Regions from separate parts of the Homo sapiens genome. Here regions 1, 2 and 4 are each reported to be linked to region 3. The links are microRNA targets in miRTarBase. Many come from high-throughput screens and were not tested one by one. Region 3 holds a microRNA gene; each other region holds the end of a gene's coding sequence.

What was found. Region 3 holds the annotated microRNA hsa-miR-6721-5p (UGGGCAGGGGCUUAUUGUAGGAG, at 3,692-3,714, opposite strand). A microRNA usually pairs through its seed, bases 2 to 8, with sites in the 3' UTR of a target mRNA and lowers its output. Matches are read on the target gene's strand: a 7mer-m8 pairs with bases 2 to 8, a 7mer-A1 pairs with bases 2 to 7 and ends in A, and an 8mer does both.
Region 1: the mRNA of KIAA1614 is a reported target of hsa-miR-6721-5p. Seed matches in the 3' UTR shown: 7mer-m8 at 1,550-1,556, 7mer-A1 at 1,202-1,208, 7mer-m8 at 832-838 and 7mer-m8 at 667-673.
Region 2: miRTarBase lists CCSAP as a target of hsa-miR-6721-5p. Seed matches in the 3' UTR shown: 7mer-A1 at 1,460-1,466.
Region 4: miRTarBase lists GJB1 as a target of hsa-miR-6721-5p. Seed matches in the 3' UTR shown: 7mer-m8 at 298-304.

The regions. Positions count from the first base shown.
Region 1 is chr1:180,945,055-180,950,199 of GRCh38, reverse strand. KIAA1614 reads right to left here. Exons shown (of 9, transcript NM_020950.2): 9 at 1-4,897. The coding sequence ends at 4,612. KIAA1614-AS1 (KIAA1614 antisense RNA 1) reads left to right here. Exons shown (of 2, transcript NR_145481.1): 2 at 1-510. Among named protein-coding and RNA genes, the nearest start is that of KIAA1614-AS1, 7.3 kb to the left of the region's middle. RefSeq lists an enhancer at 225-775.
Region 2 is chr1:229,320,553-229,325,697 of GRCh38, reverse strand. CCSAP (centriole, cilia and spindle associated protein) reads left to right here. Exons shown (of 4, transcript NM_145257.5): 4 at 287-4,683. The coding sequence ends at 463. Among named protein-coding and RNA genes, the nearest start is that of CCSAP, 20 kb to the left of the region's middle.
Region 3 is chr6:32,166,393-32,171,537 of GRCh38, forward strand. MIR6721 (microRNA 6721) reads right to left here and starts at 3,724; the gene lies at 3,638-3,724. EGFL8 (EGF like domain multiple 8) reads left to right here. Exons shown (of 9, transcript NM_030652.4): 3 at 106-228; 4 at 309-418; 5 at 518-613; 6 at 695-865; 7 at 958-1,037; 8 at 1,111-1,264; 9 at 1,518-1,889. The coding sequence ends at 1,564. AGPAT1 (1-acylglycerol-3-phosphate O-acyltransferase 1) reads right to left here. Exons shown (of 7, transcript NM_006411.4): 2 at 4,905-5,113; 3 at 4,545-4,678; 4 at 4,033-4,208; 5 at 3,773-3,868; 6 at 3,574-3,646; 7 at 1,820-3,056. The coding sequence starts at 5,104. The coding sequence ends at 2,884. It overlaps PPT2-EGFL8 (PPT2-EGFL8 readthrough (NMD candidate)), which reads left to right. Exons shown (of 16, transcript NR_037861.1): 10 at 1-228; 11 at 309-418; 12 at 518-613; 13 at 695-865; 14 at 958-1,037; 15 at 1,111-1,264; 16 at 1,518-1,893. RefSeq lists enhancers at 646-1,398, 2,907-4,106.
Region 4 is chrX:71,224,300-71,229,417 of GRCh38, forward strand. GJB1 (gap junction protein beta 1) reads left to right here. Exons shown (of 2, transcript NM_000166.6): 2 at 1-1,217. The coding sequence ends at 260. Among named protein-coding and RNA genes, the nearest start is that of GJB1, 3.6 kb to the left of the region's middle.

The DNA of each region.
Region 1 (5,145 bases), not on the chromosome of region 3:
CACACATACACACACCCCTCATTATTCCATCTCACAACCACAACTGGCTTTAGACATAGATACAGTGCGCCTCCTCCATGGTCTAACTCCATTCCACTGTCTCTGCTTTTAAAGTGGAAATGCTCCTAGTGCAAATAACGCGTTAAACTGTTGTCATTTATTTATACCTGACAGTGAGTGAGCTAATCTTTTTCTGAGATGAGCTTTTCTTGTAGAATTGGGAGGAAAATAGTTTTTAAAAATTAGGAACCATACCTACTCAGTGCCTGGCACTATGATCCAGTTGCTGCCTCAGGTCACCCAGGCCCAGCGTAAAGGCCGGGGTGGTGGGAAGGTATCATCGGAAGAGCAAAAGTGGCTGAGCCACATCCAAGCCTGGTTTGCTGCACTCTATTGCCAAAGACTGACACTGGCCTCAGTCTTACTCAGATATGGCTCCTCAATTGGGATGGGGAAGCATCTGAGCAAAAAACCCCAGGAAAAATAAAAATTCTAGCCACATATTTCAAAGCTGCGGTGGCTCCCTCTCCTCTTCTGCACATGCCCCCTCCTCCCCACCCCAAAGAGGCCCTGCCTGGGTCTAGAAGGTGCCAAGAGCCAGCCTGCGGGAACTAGCTTCTCTGCTTCTTTGCCAGGCTCCGGCTCTCAGGGAGCCCCCCGTCAGTGGGGCAGGCCCTGTGGGGCTTGGGCTGGCTGGGCTGGGAAGTGTCCAGCTGAGGAGGCCCCCTGCCCCCAACCCCCGCCCGCCGGCCTCAACCGCGGCTGGAAACCTTTCAAATTCCCCTCCAGCTGCTCCCACCTGGGAGAGTAAGTGAGGTGCTGGCTCTCCCAGGGCAGGCTGGACCCCCTGATGCCCATGCTTCATGCTGGGTGGACACAGGGGCTGAGACACAAGCTGAGTTTGCTGGAGGGACTGCGGGGCACACCCCTGGTGTGGGCATCAGCACTGGCGGAATTCAGGCTGCTCAGCGCAGCCTTTGGCACCCTCGCTGTTCGCAGCCCAGCTCGGCTCACTCTGCATTTCAGACATGAGGCCACTGCCCACGCGTTACTGTCTTCACTTCCTTTTCCTCGAATCAGGTTCTTAGCAGGGGCCCGAAAGGGCATCAGGTCTGCTCCTCAATCTCTGGCTTGAAACTAGTCACCACATCTTGGACTAGTGGGAAGTCCTCTCTCGGATCCCCCAGCCCCGTAGGAGCTTTGGGCAGCCCAGCCTGTGGCCCTGACAGAAGTCAGGCGTTTTAAAGCCTGCCTCTGAAGTGTGGGTTTGAAAGAGCACTGATCTTCACCGAAGTACCTGAAAGTCTGTGGCTCTGAATTTAGTAAATCCAATCTTTGTACACATTCCCCCTCCCTGGTCTGAGGTGTAGAATCCCTTTTGTTGCTTCTTGGCCAAGCCGAGCCTTTTCTGTGGGGCTGTCTTCCCTGACAGAGTACATCTGCCATCCTGACTGTACAAGGCGTTTTCCCTCAGCCCTGTCTTTTACCTCCTCTAGATGGACCTTTCACTGCTTGCCCTCCCTGTCTACGGGTTGGTGGCACGGGGAGGGGGCAGGTAAGAAGGGGCCCCTGGGGCAAACCCAGAGAAGTGTCTGATGTGCTGTGGGAGTTGCAGGTGGGGACTAATGATAAACCCTGAAAGAATGCTGCCAGAGCTAGGCCAGACACTGACGTCACGCCTGCCATTTTGGGGAGACTCGGGTAGGTTTCGCAACTGAAATTCGTGACACAAATATGACAGCCTGCTGTCATAGGCATTTATTGTCTGCTGGAAATGGCCTTTGTTGAGGATGTGTGATCTCTATGTTGTATCCAATTAGAAGCAGAAGGCAAAGCCTGCTGTTCTCACAGGCTCATATAGAGTCGGATGTGAAAGCCAGCAAGTTAATACCAGCATCCTGCCGGTTCAGTGCGGGGCGCAAGCCAGCCCTCCTCACAGCCCCTTGGAGCCTGGAAGAAGCGACCCTCTGCTGTTGGAGGATGGCCTGGGACACGGAGGCCCCAGCACTCGCCAGGCTTCATGTGCGTGGGGACCCCTGTGTGCCATCCAGCGCCCATGATGGCAGCAGGACCAGGGAGTGCCTGGGCACAACGGGGAGCTGGCACCAACTCAGGCGAGGGTGCCGGGGGCCCTGGGTCACTAGAGACCCCTGCCCATCAGAGCTCCCTGACGGGTGACAGGGAGGGGCTCCCACTGCCTACAAGGGAGCAAAAAGGGACTCTGGGGGAGGGTGGGCGGCAGAGTACAATGACCTGTTGTGTGTGCACTCACATCGACAGGTGAATGCGGATCACGCTGGTCCCTGTCTGGGGTTCTCTTCCCCAGACTTTCTCTTTCTGAAGGGGAGGGAAGAAAAATGCTAGGCCCTTTCCTGTGTGCCTTACCAAATGCTCCTTATGACTCTTCTAGGTAGGTTTTGTCATCCTCATTTCACAGATTAGGGAACTGAGTGAGGCTCAGTGGGGATGTCGCCTGCTCTAGATCACATAGCCAGCAGAGGTGCCGGAGCACAAACATGCTGCGTTGTCTGCCTCTGCCTTCACACCACCTGTCCGGGGGGCCTGTCCTGCTCCCCTAACGGGAGAGGAGGCTACGGGAAGGCCTGTGAGGAAGGACTTTTTATCCTCCTGAGGTCCAGAGTAGGCAGAGACCTGTCCTCTCTTCCTCTTACATGTCCAGCTCATCAGCAAATAGTCAAATCAACCAGAATCCAACCCCTGTCCCCTCTCCCCTCTCCCCATCTCCACAGCCGTTCCCAGTCCAGGCACCACTGTCTCTGTCCTGGACTGCTGAAATAGCTTCAACACAGGGCTCCCTGGCTCCACCCGTGTCCCACTGGGGTCTATTCTCATAGACATTAGAGAGTCTCAGTGCTCGCTCCGAGCCCTCTAGTGGCTCCCATCTCATTCGGCATGAAAGCCAAAGCCCCTTACAGTGGCACAACCCCATCTTTCCAAACTCTGCTCCTCCCAACCCGTTGCCTGCTCTGCAGTGTCCAGCCTGACCCTCACAGTTCTCACAGGCCAGGCTCGCCCCTCCACCAGGGCTCCGCACTTGCTGTTCAGTCTGCCGGAATGCTCTTCCCCAGACACCCATGGGGCCCCTTCCTCGCCCCATCCACGGCCCTGCTCAAGTGTCATCTTCTCAGAAAAGCCTCCCCACACTCCTGTCTATACCAGCACCTGCCACACCTGCTTTATCTGTCTGTTTCTCAGAACTTTCTTTTCACCATCTGACATACGTAGCACATTATACATAACAAGAGTACACATTTTATAGATACAATCTAACTGCTCACTGGGTAGTATATTCATGAGGATAGGGATTTGGTCTGTTCCATTTACTGCTGTATCCCCCGTATCTATAACACATAGTAGGTGCTTAGTATATATTTGCTGAAACAATGATGGAACAGACATGAGAACTCATGCTGTGGTCTGCAAATGTGGTAGCAGGCAGACTTTTTTCCAGGCTAAACAGCATTGAGCTAGGAGATCAAAGCACAGGACTCAACCCCCCATCGGCAGAGCCCGGCCGCAGCAGGCTTCTGTGTTCGTCTTTCTGTATCTGTCTCTCCCTTTCTCTCTCCTTCCTTCCCCTCCCCTCCTTCCCCACCCTCACATACGTGTCTTCCTTCCCTGATCCTCTGGGGAATGTCTTTTATGGGCCCTTGAGATGCATTCTGGACCACAGACCTTGGGCGTGGGCTTTTGCAAGTCACGTTGCCCTGAAAGACTCATGGATGGGGTGGAACTGAGAACTGGTCAGAGTGCAGAATGATGTCCAGGACTTCTCCCTGCCATTGCCTGGGTTGAATTGAGACCCAGAGCACACCCCAGTCAGAGGCCTGCAGCCAGGATTCATCTGAACATAATCATCGGGCACAGGCCTGAGGGAGGGACGGGATGCAGAGACAGACAGGCATGCTCCACGTGCCCAGACATACTCCACAGCCGGAGGAAAGGAACCGTTTCAACGCAGCCACATCAAAGGGACTGCTGAGAACCAGCAGGCACAGACAGTTTCCCTCTGGCTCTCCTCTGCAAAGATGGCCTTCAAAATTCTAATTTATTTATTTCTTTTTTTTTTTCCTTTGAGATGAAGTTTTGCTCTTGTTGCCCAGGCTGGAGTGCAATGGCGCAATCTCGGCTCACTGCAACCTCTACCTCCCGGGTTCAAGCAATTCTCCTGCCTCAGCCTCCCAAGTAGCTGGGATTATAGGCATGCGCCACCACGCCCAGCTAATTTTGTATTTTTAGTAGACATGGGTTTCACCATGTGGGCCAGACTGGTCTCGAACTCCTGACCTCAGGTGATCCAGGCGCCTCGGCCTCCCAAAGTTCTGGGATTACAGGCATGAGCCACTGCGCCCGGCCTAAGCTTCTAATTTCAAGATGTCATCAGACAGCAGGGGGACAGTGGAGTCAAACCTGCCAACTCTACCCCCTCCCGCACACTCCCCACCAACGCACTCTCAGCTGCAGTTGCCTAGGGCAAAGGCTCTGCAGGTGCAGACTCCTAGAGAGCCCTGGACAATTCAGAAAGAGCCCCTGAGGGGAGAAGCCTAGTCCTGTAGTCAGAGGCTTTCTGAATTCCCAGAGCTGCACGGCTCAGCCAAAGACCAGAAAAGCCTCTGACCACAGCCAGAAGGCCCTGCCTTGTTTGCTAAGGCCGCCCCAGCCATGGGGCTGAGGAAGAGGAGAGGGCATACCTGAGTCTGGGCGCCCATTCCCAGAGGCCACGCAGAAGCCGAAAGTGCCCCCTGGGGAGCGCTGCAGCTGCAGCTGGCTGGTGCCGTCTGGGAACACCTCCACCAGGCGGCCCACGGTGCGAGCCAGGCTGGGAGCACCCACGTCCTCCACACTGAGGGCACGCCGTGGTGAAGTCTTGGCCGGCCTGCGAGGGAACCAGAGACACAGTGAGGGCAAAAAGCATCAGGCACTGGGCACAGCTCTTCCCTGGCTTACAGATGACCGATGCCTCACAGACTTAAGAGCCTGGCATTGGAGGCTGGGGTTCTGCTGACTTCAGCCAGCAAAAAGAGCCTGCTAGGGCCAAAACTGGTGGGTTTCCGCCGCTGTGCAAGGCCCCCCAAGGCCTGCTGTGGAACTAGAAACCCCACCCTCCCAAAGCAGTGGTTTCAA
Region 2 (5,145 bases), not on the chromosome of region 3:
CCAACTCTAGAGGCACATGCAAATTAGTTGCTTACCATTTCTGTCTAACATTTAATTTGCTGTTGCTTAGTTTCATTATCCCTGATATGAATCAAGTGAGAACAGCATCAAGTGAGAATGGCTCTTCTGTGGAAGGTTTTATGTAAAGAAGAACTATATAGAGAGGCAGGGCTTGACTCTGCCCTGCTGCAGTTGACCTGGCAGTAGCCAGCTTCATTGCAACCTCTGTTGAACATTAGTATAATAGCCCCTTAAGTTACTATCCTTTATTTTGAACTCTCTTTAGATTCATGAATCAGCATTACGAGCCAAGAACAGAAGACAGGTGGAAAAAAGGAAACTGGTTGCTCAAAGGCAGCGAGCTCACTCTGTGGATGTGGAGAAGAACAGAAAGATGAAGGCTTCCTCCTCAGAGAACCCGTGGATGACAGAATACATGAGGTGCTATTCGGCAAGAGCTTAAAGAAACACTTGCGTGGACAGCCTCTTTTAAAAAGTGTAAATGACTGAAAGGAAAAACAAAACAAAAACCATCAAAAGAAACGGACACAGGTTTAAGAAACCAACTGATTATGCAAGGTTTTTTTTAGGGAATTTGTAAAAGATTGTTTTATTTTGATGAATATTGGTCACCTACCTCGGCAGTAGGGCAGACAGTTGAAGCCATAGACATTTGGTTATTTATGAAGATAATTCCCTAAATCTTTGATATTCTTATAAGGTTTTTGTTTTAAAGCATCTTAATCTTTTAAGATACTGACACCAAATGCCTTTAAATGGCAACAGATGCTTACAGTTCAGTATTCTTTTCATAAGCTTAGGTAGAGCCTATTATCATCTTGTTCTAAATAACTTTCCAGATTCCATAGCTATAAGATCATTCCATCCTACAGCATAAGACTCGTTTTCCTTATATGCCGTTTTGTTTGTGAAAGAATATCAAGTCAAAAATGAGTGTCAGCACTACTACTGATTCCATGTATAATGAAAGTAGAACTTTGCTAGTTCCTGAAAATTTTTAACTTATTTGTATTTCAGTTCAGCAGCATCTTTATGTAGATTGTGATATTTAAGAATTATCTGGGCTGGGCGAGGGTCTCTTTTTCTCTTTCAGTGATCATCTAGGCAGTTATTATTTAATAGTTTAATAGCTCAAGTACATTCCAATAGACGAAGTGCACACAACACAATATGTGTGTACAGTAGTAGTAAAGTTTCTTTTGAGTAGTCAAAGACTCACTTTTTTTATTGCCTTTTTTTTTTTTTTTAAAGAATACATACTGTGGATTCAGTCCCTTGTCACACTTGACCTTTTGGCATACACCCACTGTGGACTTTTGCCTCTTCTGTAATGGCTGGCAATGACATTTCAAACTTACAATCTGGAATTGCACTTGGTACATTGGCATTGCTTGTTCCACTGGGATGGGGACCAGTGTGAAGATGCCTGTTAGATAGACTGCCCACCCCTACTTTCTCTTTTTCTTTATAGCACTTAACAATAACAAAGTCTTGATGATGTACAGTATTCAAACTTTAGGTTGAAATACGTTACTCTTTGATTCCTAGCCAGTAGATCTTATCTACACTTTAATGGGAGAGAATGGTGGTGTGTGGGTAGGCACAAATTTATGTAAATAGTGCTCCTTCTCTTTAGTATGTTTGCTTTGGGGGTAGAAAAATGGTTTTAACAAACACTGGTTTCCATCAAATGAATGATGTCTTCTCCATCCTGTGGAGACAAGAATCTGCTAGAAGGATATGTGCTAAGTTCCTTATAAGAGATAATGGTGCTCTGCCTATGCCAGCTTGGCACCCGAAGATGTGTGAGTGGACGTGAGGCTGAGTATTACCTTAGTATTTTTCTCTGGGTCTTTGGAAAACCATAGTCAATTTTTAGAACATATTGCTTTCATTCCCCATAAACTCTTCACACATGATAACTGTTTAAGCTTTGAAAACACATACTGAAGTATTGTGAGCTTAAAAAAACTTTTTAAATATTTGCATAGTTTTGAGGTGAATTTGTTTCCTTACAGATCTCTCCTAATCATTGAGATGTATATTTCAAAAGAGGAAATTTTACATGTTGTCCAAAACAGCCTTGCTAGTAACTGGTGAATTTTGGTATTAACTATTATTAAAGTCTTTAAACGACACAGGTACCTAAAGATCACCTTAATGTGGCAATTTGTGATGGTGTAGCTAGCTGATTGTGAAAACTGTTCCTTTAAAGTCGCTTCTTGCATGTTCGGTGTTAGTCATCCAGCTCAGGCTTGTGTTGCAGCTGACAATCTAGGAAAGACGGCCTTAGAGAGTGGTGCAGGCCCCACACTGACGGACTGCCTTAGAAACCCGACTTCCTCTAGACTTTGAACCGCCAGACTTTTCTCTTGTTTAGAAAACAAACTTATATTTAATGTACTTACTACTTAAAACTCCAGACAGAGATATAATGTAGAAGGCAAATATTGGCCAATTTTTTCCTCTTTTTAAGTGGAAGACAAATGAACGGGATTTTTAAAGTGCTTTTAAAGTGCATGAATGGTTAATAAATCAGTATGAATTGTAAGCCTTCATCTTACATCCAAGTCCTTAGTTGGTTAGGGTTTCTTTTCTTTCTTTTTTAAAGAGTGTCAATTACCTTTTGAACCTGTGAAAATTTGATAGTTGTTAACAGTCTGATGGTCCTAATTCTTTCTTTTCATTCTAGAAATGAATGTGGTTGTAATCATGTTCCTAATTCTTGGGACAACCTGCAAGACAGTGAGACAGTTTAAAAATTACCTTTCATGTTGAAAAAGTCTGAAACAGAGAACCCAATGATATTTAAAATAAATGCTACATAAAACTCTTTTTAAAATTTTGATTTTAACTTAATTAAAACAATGTCATAAATATGCTTTTTGATTTTGTTACTGCTTTTAATATTAAAGTAATAGAATATTGAAGCAATATTGTCTAGCACTCTGCTGGACATTAAGTCCGCGGGAGGAGAAGTGAACAGGAATCGATTCTTTGTCTTTTAACTGCCCTTAGTTAGGAGATGTTAAAATACTTGGCACCTCTGGTTATATGTATGTTATGTGTGTTCTCCCCCCTAAAATTTCTAAGCACATTTATTCACTTTTAAAATGAATCTTTAAAAGATTATAGTTAGTAGTTATAGTTAATATTCTATTTACTTGGAAAAATGTGAATAAATGGATCTTCAAAAGATTCATTTTAAAAATGAATAAATGTATAATAGGCTATAGGTGATCTTACTTGCGTATTAGGTAGGAGGCACATATTTATACCATTTCATATGTAATATCTTTGTCATTGTGTTTCATCGAAGATCAATTGCTAGCAACTTGAAGGGTATTTATACTTGGGTCACTTGAACTCAGCTGACTAAATTGTAAGAACGAGAGCAAGCAAGATGGCTGTTATTGGAAGCCATAACTTCCAGAAGATAATTCTGCACAATTCGTAAGTTAAAAAAAATCTGTAGGGTCTTCCACTATCCTTTTTCAGGTTGATAATGCTGTTCTGGGCACACACTTTGTAAATGGAATGTTATGGTACAGTCGCCTCTCAGTATCCATGGGGCATTGGTTCCAGGCCTCCCTTAGGATGCCAAACTCCATGGATACTCAAACCCCTTCTATAAAATGGTGTAGTATTTGCATATATCCTAGACACATCCTCCTGTATGCTTTAAATCATCTCTAGATTACTTAAAATACCTAATACAATGTAAATGCTCTGTAAATAGTTGTTATACTATATTGTTTAGGGAATAATGACAAGGAAAAAAAAGCCTGTACATGTTCAGCACAAGTGAAACCATCCTTTTTGCCCCCAAATATTTTCAATTTGTATTTGGTTGAATCCATGGATGCAGAACTCACGGATACAGAGGGCCGACTGTACTTTCTTTAAAGTGTTCAAAAGTATTACTAGCAAAGAGGAGGAGGAGCAAAGCATATATCAGAAGTAAAACAATTTTTCTTGTTGACTGCTTTGGTAAAAAACAGTTTGATGGATAGTTTTACATTTCACTGGACTAGATAAAAAATGGTGCTAATATTTATGTAGCTTGATGCTATAGTTGCTTTGGTATCAAACTTAATACCTAACCCATATAAGATCCTTATTATATAATTTTGTGATCAGTAAAATGATATTTTAAAGAGTGATCTTAAAAATATGACCTGGTCATTGCACAACGTTTGCATTTGAAATGAATTTTTGTACTATAGGGTGGATATGGAGTTATTCAGTGCAAGTGTGTGCTTAATATCAAACCCTATGCAAGGAGCTATGTCTAGATTTTTGGTCCAAATTTGCCTCCTTCAAGCCTACTAGTGTGAGATGGAAAAAAATCGATTGCTCTTTTAATATTATTTCCATTTTGAAATTCTCGACACTTGAATGAAGGCAGTAGAGGCCTCTTTTTGGATTTCTCTTCTAATAACAAAACTTTATTTAGGGAAGGTTTCCCTGTGCTATCGTAAGTTTGTTTTGAGCACTGCATTCACTTTAAAATTCTGGAGGAACAAAGGCTGGGCACATAATCACAAAGCCCAGGCCACACAATAATTCGGGGTTGTATTTTCTAAGAACTATGTATTGTTTTTAGCTTATAGTTAATATTGTATTTACTTGGAAAAATGTGAATAAAGTTAATTAACATTACAAGCTGAGACTCTTTTGTGAGAAGTAATTCTGCTTAGTACATAAATGACTTGAAGAAAATGTATGATCATATTGACTCCTAAATGGATTTTTCAGTAGATAAATGTTTAACAAGACACATTAGTTATGTCCGGGAAAAGATAAATAGTGTATATACACTTTGAGTTGAGCTATAATTTTTCCCAGTCTTTTCCATCACATCTTCTTATGGTTTTGAAAGTTACAAAAGTAATAGTGCATGGTTAAAATAACTCAAAAAGAAGTATAGAGTTGGCTGGGTGTGGTGGCTCACGCCTGGAATCCCAGCACTTTGGGAGGCCGAGGCAGGCAGATCACTTGAGGTCAGGAGTTTGTGACCAGCCTGGCCAATATGGTTAAACCCCGTCTTTACTAAAAATACAAAAATTAGCCGGGTGTGATGGCACGTGCCTGTAATCCCAGTTACTCGGGAGGCTGAGGCAG
Region 3 (5,145 bases):
GGAGAGCGGGGGGCCTCAGTAGCCTCTTGAGGGAAGTGGGACTCCTGGCTCCCCAGGGCCTGGCCTACTCAATCTCTCCCACCTCATCCTCTGGCATGGACGCAGTCAGGGAGTCTGCTCCAAGCAGACACTGGTGGTCCCGCTCCACTACAACGAGTCCTACAGCCAACCAGTGTACAAGCCCTACCTGACCTTGTGCGCTGGGAGGCGCATCTGCAGCACTTACAGGTGAGGGATGGGGAGATGGGACCCCAAGAACCCCAACTAGGACCCGTACTCAGGGTCCTGAGCCGGGCGCTGTGTTCCAGGACCATGTACCGCGTTATGTGGCGGGAGGTGAGGCGGGAGGTTCAGCAGACCCATGCAGTGTGCTGCCAGGGCTGGAAGAAGCGGCACCCGGGGGCGCTCACCTGTGAAGGTGAGGCTGGGTCTTCCGGGCCTTGCGGGAGGCGCGCCCCACGGAGCTGGGGAGCTGGGTCGTCGGTTTGAGTCTGAACCCCACTTCCTCTGTCCTCAGCCATCTGCGCCAAGCCTTGCCTGAACGGAGGCGTCTGCGTTAGGCCTGACCAGTGCGAGTGCGCCCCCGGCTGGGGAGGGAAGCACTGTCATGTGGGTGAGTCAGCTTGTCCTCCCCACCTACCCAGGTGCTTGCCCCCGCCCCCTCTCTCAGCCCCTTCCTTTTTTCGGTAACTAGACGTGGATGAATGTAGGACCAGCATCACCCTCTGCTCGCACCATTGTTTTAATACGGCAGGCAGCTTCACCTGCGGCTGCCCCCATGACCTAGTGCTAGGCGTGGACGGGCGCACCTGCATGGAGGGGTCCCCAGAGCCCCCAACCAGTGCCAGCATACTCAGCGTGGCCGGTGAGTGGGCAGGAGTACGGGCCACCCGAGGGACTCGGGACGGGCGTCCGGGCTCGGGTAGTGGTCACACTCTTGGTCTCCTTTGTCCCTAGTTCGGGAGGCGGAAAAAGATGAGCGCGCTCTGAAGCAGGAGATTCACGAGCTGCGAGGGCGCCTGGAGCGGCTGGAGCAGGTGAGCCAAGCCTGCTGGGTGGGGCGAGGCCAGACGTCACTGTCAATACCCTGAGGCATCTCTTCCTTTCTAGTGGGCCGGTCAGGCTGGGGCCTGGGTCAGAGCGGTGCTGCCCGTGCCGCCTGAAGAGCTGCAGCCAGAACAGGTGGCTGAGCTGTGGGGCCGGGGTGACCGGATCGAATCTCTCAGCGACCAGGTGCTGCTGCTGGAGGAGAGGCTAGGTGCCTGTGAGTCCTCACACTCCTCCCGCCTTGACTTCTATTCCCCAACTTTCCCCAAGACCCCTCTCCATTCAGGCATTCCCTCTTTCCTCCAAGCCCCTCTCCAACATTCACTATCCTCATGCCTCTCCACTTTACCATCGTTCTCTTCTGAAATCCTGTCCCCAGCCCAACAGTTTCACTTATTGTTTGGTGAGAGTGGCAGTGTAGTCCACTCCAGGCTGACCACAGCCACTGTGTCTGCCATGTCATTAACCAGGCTCCTGTGAGGACAACAGCCTGGGCCTCGGCGTCAATCATCGATAAGAAGCCTCTACAGCACCCCTGCCCCCTAATTTATACAGAAACCGGACCCACTAATCCTCTGGGATTGGCCGACTGTGAGCTGCAGATAAGGCTATCAGCCACCAAAGAGCAATGAACAATGGAAACTTCAGAGAGCTGAAGAAAGGGGGAGGCCTGTGTTCTTGGCCTGCCCCTGAGTCTTCTGGCTGGGGGCAGGTTGCCTGGGCAAGAACTGCTTCTTCAATTCCTTAACAAATGCAACCACCAACACCCAGATCTCTCTCTCTCTTTATTTTCAGTTTTTTTGCTGTTATCCAGATAATTAATAAAAACCAACCACGCAAAACTGGGTCCCACCCTCTCCTTTTGCTCCCAGCCTACCTCCCCAGTTGTGGGAACAGGTCTGGAGTGAGAGGCAGGGAGTGGCTAATGCCACCAGGAAGAAATGAAAACTGGCTCAGAGAGGGGGAAGCCTCAACAGAAAAAGAAATAAATTAAAAGCCCTCCTATCCCCTCCAGCCAGGGTTCGTTCCTTTCCCCAACTCCCCAGGGGGCAGAAGTGAGTGCAGCACCTGATGTCTGCTTCTTCCCCTTGTGTCTGGTGAGATGGTGCAGCAGGGCTGCAGGGGGCTGGGTGGGGTCATGTCCACTGAAGAACTGTACTATGGGGACAGAAAACCAGAAATGTGGAGACTGAACTGGTATCCCAGAGAGTGCACGACCCTGGGCATCTGGGCAAGGGCAGGCATGAGACCTCTGAATTAGAAGGGTCCAGCCCCCACTGACAGGAGGCTACACTGGGAGGGAAGGTGAAGGTGCTGAGGAAAGCTCCCATGATGAGCCTGGGAGTGCTTCAGGTATCAGCTTCCAGCCAGAGGGCGAGAAGTCCTCCTCACAAATGGATGAGTCCATTGAATCCATGGACTTTGGAGTGGGGGGGATTTGTTCCAAAGAATGGATGAGTCCACTGGCCAATGTGGGGTAGAGGGGTAGAGAAGACCACATAGGAAGAGACTCCACTGGGGATGGAATGTTCCCCTCCCTTGTGTAGGCTGAGTCACTGGAGATGAGGGGGAGGCAACTGTCCCACAGACAAGACAGTAGGAGGTGGGGGTCAAGAGTGGAGACTGCACCGAGGCAAGAGTCCATGGATGGGGCCAAGAGGGGGCAGGAGTGGCGCTGTATCCACATTCACTTCAGAAGTTGAAGATTCCAAAGAGGAGAATAAGTGGGGAGAGGGGAGACAAGGAAGAGGGTTTGGCCCTGCTTCAGGGCCCACTGGGTGGGTAGGTGTGGGGAGGAAGATGGGGACAGATGGGAGGAGAGCTCAGAGCCAGGGTTCACCCACCGCCCCCAGGCTTCTTCAGATAGTCACCACCACCCCGGCCATCAGTGGAGATTTCCCGGAAAACAGTGAGCATGGAGTGCCGGACTCTGTCAGCCAGAGCTGGGACGTCATCTGGTGTCAGCCCTTCCGTGGGCACTGGGGGCAGCACCCGCACCTGACATTGTCCTGGGGCAAGGGGAGCACCATCATGGCCTGTCCACCCAGGTCTTTGCCCACAGGTGGGGCCCAGCTTCCGAGTGATACTCTTCCTCAACCTTTCAGTTCTCTTCCCCCAACCCTGGACAACCATCCCTGGGCTTGCCAGCTGCCACTTCTGAGGCCCTTCTCCTATACAAAGCCTTCTCCAATCCCCAGTTCAGACATCTCCTCAGCACCCCTCCAGCCCCCCTCCTCTGGGTTTGGCATTTACTGCTGAATGAGTGTTATTCATTACAGCTTTGTGCACACAGGCCTTATCTTTCCTGTTAAGATTAGTAACAGCCTCTCTTGGTGGGACCAAGTGCTACCCATCTGGCAGGGTATGGTGGGTGCTTAGTAAAGACTTATTGGCTGATGTGGGGTTAGACTAGATGACTGTGTAGACATCTCATGGCTCTGACACTGAATGATCCCCCTGCCTCACAGGGATGTCCTCCCAGCCTCTCCGGACACACCCTACCCCAGAACTGCTCAAAGCCCTCACCCGAGGTGAAGCGACGCTCCTTCTTGCAGTAGAAGTCTTGGTAGGAGGACATGACTATGGGGACAATGGGAACCTGGGGAAGGGTTAAAGCAGGTCAGTCCACAGCTCTCTTCAGAGACTCCTACAATAAGCCCCTGCCCAGAGATGAGGGAATGGTGGGGGTTGGCAGCTGAGTAGCAGAACGAAGAGCAGTAGTCACCTGGGCCTGCACTGCAAGATGGAAGGCGCCACGTTTGAAGGGCAGCATGGAGCCATTGTGGTTTCTCGTTCCCTCAGGAAACACCCAGACCCTCACCTGGGGGAGAAAGAGGGTCAAAGAAGACAAATACATATGGAGGAGTCAGAATAGGTGTGATGTTATAATGGGACCTTTGAGGCCCACTGGCCCTGCATATCAGTTTATTTACAACTGTTCTACTCTGTATCCCTCCAATCCCCCATTTCCCCAGGATGACTCACGTCCTGGGTGAGCAGGGTCTGGGCGACCTCAGACATGACACTGATGGCATCCCCCGTGCGCTTCCGGTCGATGAAGATGACTCCTGCCAGCCAGCAGGCCAGCCCGGCAGAGCCAGCCCACAGTAGCTCGCGCTTGGCAATGGGCACACAGCGGCCTGGCAGTACCTCCATCATCCCTTGGGCAGGGTGGGAGTGGGTGAGGATCGGGGTGGAGGCAGAGTGTCACAGAAGGCAACCCACCTCACCCAGCTCATCACCCTCTGGTAGGGACTGGAGGTGAAGGAGGAGACTAGGCAGGGAGGGGGGCCCCAAGTGAAGGAAAGGGTGACCAAAAGTATATGTAACCTGCTTATGAGGGCAGTTCTACCCAGGGAATGAAGGCCTGAGTGGGAGGCAAGGGGGCAATGTCCCAGAGGAAGGGGAATTGAGGATCTCTAGGAGAAGATATTCTAGGGAAGGTTTCAGGAGGGGAGGCATGGCTGGGGGAGGTGTGCCCTGTGGTGGGGTCTCACCAAGCAGATCGAGAGAGCTCTGGTGGTTGGAGACAACAACATAGGGCTGCGAGGGAGGGAAGTGGTGAGCCCCTCGCACCTCCACTCGGATCCCGTACAGGTATTTGATGTGGAGCAGCATTAGACGCAAGATCCTGTGGGGTCATGGCAAGGGGTCCCAGTGGGATCCATTGATGTCCATCTGCATGCCTCAGCTCCCCCCACCTTACTGTCTTTCTGACCACCTTTGCAGTCCTCTCCCCATTCCCTGTCTCTGGTCTCTCTCAGTCTTTTCTACACACACCATGCCCCCTTCCCCCAATCCACTACTCACTTTGTACCCTTAGGTTCCCTCATTGCCCAAGACCCCTTGCCCCTCACTTCATGTTCTCGACGTTGCGTCCTCGCACGGCACACACAGGGATGGCGAGCACAGCCAGGAAGAGGATCCAGCCATTGTAGAAGGCCATCTTGAAGAAGTACTTGGCACTGGGGCTGCAGAACCACAGGGTGGGCAGCAGGAAGAGCAGCAGCAGGAAGAGCAGCAGCAGCAGCATCCATGCCCCTGGCCACAAATCCATTCTGGCCACCTGCAGGGGATGGGGCAAGGGACAATCAGCCT
Region 4 (5,118 bases), not on the chromosome of region 3:
CTGGCATCTGCATCATCCTCAATGTGGCCGAGGTGGTGTACCTCATCATCCGGGCCTGTGCCCGCCGAGCCCAGCGCCGCTCCAATCCACCTTCCCGCAAGGGCTCGGGCTTCGGCCACCGCCTCTCACCTGAATACAAGCAGAATGAGATCAACAAGCTGCTGAGTGAGCAGGATGGCTCCCTGAAAGACATACTGCGCCGCAGCCCTGGCACCGGGGCTGGGCTGGCTGAAAAGAGCGACCGCTGCTCGGCCTGCTGATGCCACATACCAGGCAACCTCCCATCCCACCCCCGACCCTGCCCTGGGCGAGCCCCTCCTTCTCCCCTGCCGGTGCACAGGCCTCTGCCTGCTGGGGATTACTCGATCAAAACCTTCCTTCCCTGGCTACTTCCCTTCCTCCCGGGGCCTTCCTTTTGAGGAGCTGGAGGGGTGGGGAGCTAGAGGCCACCTATGCCAGTGCTCAAGGTTACTGGGAGTGTGGGCTGCCCTTGTTGCCTGCACCCTTCCCTCTTCCCTCTCCCTCTCTCTGGGACCACTGGGTACAAGAGATGGGATGCTCCGACAGCGTCTCCAATTATGAAACTAATCTTAACCCTGTGCTGTCAGATACCCTGTTTCTGGAGTCACATCAGTGAGGAGGGATGTGGGTAAGAGGAGCAGAGGGCAGGGGTGCTGTGGACATGTGGGTGGAGAAGGGAGGGTGGCCAGCACTAGTAAAGGAGGAATAGTGCTTGCTGGCCACAAGGAAAAGGAGGAGGTGTCTGGGGTGAGGGAGTTAGGGAGAGAGAAGCAGGCAGATAAGTTGGAGCAGGGGTTGGTCAAGGCCACCTCTGCCTCTAGTCCCCAAGGCCTCTCTCTGCCTGAAATGTTACACATTAAACAGGATTTTACAGTAAATGAAGAGGTGGCTTGTGTGTTTGTCAAGTTCTTTCTCCTGCAACCTCTGACCTCCCCCAGGATGAGCTGGCCTTGGTTTTTTACTGATTAAGAAAGGAACAGGGCAAAAGAAGTAGTTACTTGAGTAGCTGAAGCTGCAAATGAGGAAATCACTGTACTTCTGGGCCGCAGAGCCAGCCCCGGAGCCATTCCTCCCTGTTGCTTTTGTTGTTGTGGTTCTTGTCTTTTTCATTGTCTAATAACAGCTTTATTGGGATTTAGTTTACATACCTCCTTCCTCTGATTTTGAAAAGATTAAAAATGACAACTCCCTCTGAAGAGACAAGAAATGATTGGGAAATTTCTCCTGCCCCAGAGAGTGGCACAATTCCCTGGGTACCTCGGTGAGAGCCCCTCCCCCGCACATCTGGAGACCTATCTCCTTACTCCCTCCAAACTCAGCATCCCCTACAAGCTGATGTCCCACAGTCCACCTGTTGGGTTGCACGATGACCCTGACCCCTTTCAGCTGGACAGAGCCCCTAATTTCATCCTCTTTCCCAGTTTCCTTCTCTCAGGAATCAATGCTTCCCACTCCAGAGATGCCTCCACACAGGTCAAACATTTCATAGCAGCAGTTTCCTCACCAGCATCACCCTCCCCTGTCAGCTGTGGTAGGAAATGCCCCAGGCTGAGACTTGGAAAAGCTGCGCTGGAGTCCTGATGCTGTCACTTAGTAGCGGGGCATTCCCTTCCCCGAACCTCAGCTTCCTTATGAGCAAACGAGAACTGGCCCAGCACATCTCTCAGCTCCCTTCAACACTCTGTGCTTCTGGGATTCCTGAAAGATTTCCCCAAGTAACAGTGCATTATCTTCCCCCAGCCTCACAGGGGTTTCCTTAGAGTCACTGCCCCCACAAATAGCCTCTCAGAGTAAAAGTTTCCCCCATGGCAAGTTTGCCTCCTCAGCTTCCTTACCTCCGAACAGGAGAAATTATTTGCCACTCCCTCTCAGAGTATGTGGACTCCATGTAGGAAGTGCTGGATATCAGAAAGGGAGAGAAAATCAGACACAATCTCATGTGAATTGTTCTCCCTTGAGACAGTTTTTCCTCTTTGGAGAGAAAGCATGGAAGTTTTCTTTATTTGAGATTTCTCCTTTAGAAAAAAAAAAAAGGAAGACTGGATGTGGTGGCTCATGCCTGTAGTCCCAGCACTTTGGAAGGCCAAGGGGAGAGAATCACTTGAGCCCATGAGTTTGAGACCAGTCTGAGCAACATAGAGAGACCCCATCTCTACAAAAAAAATAAAATAAAACAATTAGTCAGGTGTGGTGGCATGTGCCTGTAGTCCCAAGCTATTTCGGATGCTGAGGTGGGAGGATAACTCGAGCCCAGGAGGAGGTTGAGGCTGCAGTCAGCTGTGATCACGCCACTGCACTCCAGCCCGGGCCAGAGAGTGAGACCTTGTCAAGAAAGAAACAAAGAAAGAAAAGGAAGGAAGGAAGGAAGGGAGGGAGGGAGAGAGGGAGGGAGGGAGGGAAGGAAATGAGACCTTTAGAGGCCGAAGCAAGAGGATTGCATGAGGCCAGGAGTTCAAGACTAGCCTGGACAGCATAGCAAGATCCTATCTCTATTTTTTTTTTTTTTGAGACGGAGTCTCGCTCTGTCACCCAGGCTGGAGTACAGTGGCGCGATCTCGGCTCACTGCAAGCTCCACCTCCCGGGTTCACGCTGTTCTCCTGCCTCAGCCTCCCGAGTAGCTGGGACAATAGGCGCCCGCCACCACGCCCGGCTAATTTTTTTTTGTATTTTTAGTAGAGACGGGGTTTCACTGTGTTAGCCAGGATGGTCTCAATCTCCTGACCTCGTGATCTGCCCGCCTCGGCCTCCCAAAGAGCTGGGATTACAGGTGTGAGCAACCGCGCCCGGCCTCCCATCTCTATTTTTAAAAAATTGAAAGAAAGAAAGGAGAGAGTAAGTATTCCTTTCCACCACACTTAGTAATCCCTGAGAGAGAGCTTCCTCTCCCTTAAAAGAGGAACATTCCTTTCCTACAAGAAATTTCCTTTCCCCTTAGAAACTGACATTATGTTCCATCAGAGGAGAGGTCCCCACCCCCTCACGGTGAGAGAGATTCCTTTTCTTATCGAAATCCATCCTTTTCACCCACAACAATACAACAAACACATCCCCTCTCCATACAACATGCCATCAGGAGAAAGATTTTCTTTTTAAAATTCCATCCTGGTCCTGGTCGGAAGCAGGGAACCTCATGCCCTCTCCACATTGAGAAATGCTAACCCCCACCATCACATCAGAAATGTAGTTTCTCTTCAAAGATTCTACCAATCCCCCTTGGAAAGAGGCTCCAACTCTATATCAAGGCTTTCCTCTCCAGGGGGCAGTGGTGGGACAATAAAGCTATCAGGCTGGGTGTTACAGCCCAAGTGGGGGACACAGGATTCTTGGGTCCCATGAACCAGGTAGGAACAGGCCCAAGGAACCTTGAGGGGAGCTGGTGGACACAATGTCTCAGGGAGGTAGGAGGCAGAGTTAGACTGACTCCAAGACTGACTTTTCAAATCAGGCTCTGTCACAAGAGTATAAGAGAGAGACACAGAGGCAAATGAGGCATGCTCTCTGCCACGCAGTAGAAATTCAATGTGCTGAGTGACCTGGGTTATGAAGAGGACACTGGAATTAGGAGACCTCGTTCTCCACTGATGAGCTCTGTCCCCTTGGACACGTGATATTTACCCTCTCCAGGTCTGTTTCCTCATCTCCAATAGAGAGTTAATAATAACCTCTCTACCTCTTTCACAGAACTTTTTTGAGAATCAGACAAGATGTGTTCAAAAGCTGGTTATGAACTAACGGTAAAGTAAGGTAAGATAGTATCATAAGCACTGAGACCATGGCCTTACGACATGCTAGAATTCTCAATGAGCCAGAAAGGAGTGAGGCTGGTTCAGGTAGGCTGAAGCTAGTTAAAACAATTTGGCAATAATAGTGTTGGCTCCCCCAGGGAGTGGACACCAGTCCAAACAGCAAAGTCCAAGAGAGGTTGCAAACCTGAGCATGATTCATTTAAGGGTCAATATTCAAGGGGTCTGATCAGGGGGCAGAAAAGGCATAGTAACAGGAAGCTCTTGCATGCTGTATCTCATGGAACTGGTCCTTTTAGGAATGTCTATGATCTTTTAGAGGTGTCTATGCACAGAGATGCCAGGAGCTGGGGGGCAAAGGAACAGAGGCAGATGAACTAGGAGAGTAATCAAGGCCTCCAGCCAGCTGAGTTGGGGTTTGAAAGCAAGCTGTGGTATCCATAGAGAATTGGCATGGCAACCACAAACTGGTTCAGATGTTCAATCAGATAGCCTGGGTGCACACAGTGGGGGCTAGAGGGGAATGCTTGCTCCATTTACTGATTCCAAAGTACTTAAATGCCAGACCTGGCCTATGGTGCAGAAGGGGCTACACAATCGTACCAAGCTAAGCTCCTGTTGATTCCTGGAGTAGGCCAGGGAGAATGTACAGGGTCAAATGGAAAATGGATTGGGACATTCCAGCAAGGGGCAAATAAAACAGACAAAAAATACCCTACAGATATGACAGGAATTGGCTGGGCACAGTGGCTGTTGCCTGTAATCCCAGCAATTTGGGAAGCCAAAGCAGGCAGATCACTTGAAGCCAGGAGTTCGAGACCATCCTGGCCAACATGGTGAAACACTGTCTCTACTAAAAATACAAAAATTAGCCAGGCGTGGTGGCACATGCCCATAGTCCCAGCTACTCAGGAGGCTGAGGTGGGAGAATTGCTTGAATCCGGGAGGTGGAGGTTGCAGTGAGCCGAGATCGCGCCACTGCACTCCAGCCTGAGTGACAGAGTGAGTGAGACTCCATCACAAAAAAAAAAAAAAAAAAAAAAAAAAGCCAGGCACGGTGGCTCACGCCTGTAATCCCAGCACTTTGGGAGGCCGAGGCAGGTGGATCACTTGAGGTCAGGAGTTTGAGACCAGCCTGGCCAACATGGTGAAACCCCGTCTCTACCAAAAATACAAAAATTAGCCCCGTGTGGTGGCGCACGCCTGTAATCTCAGCTACTTGGGAGGCTGAGGCATAAGAATCGCTTGAACCTGGGAGGCAGAGGTTGCAATGAGCCGAGATCATGCCACTGCACTCCAGCCTGGGTGACAGAGCGACTCTGTCTCAAAAAAAAAAAAAAGGTATGACGGGGG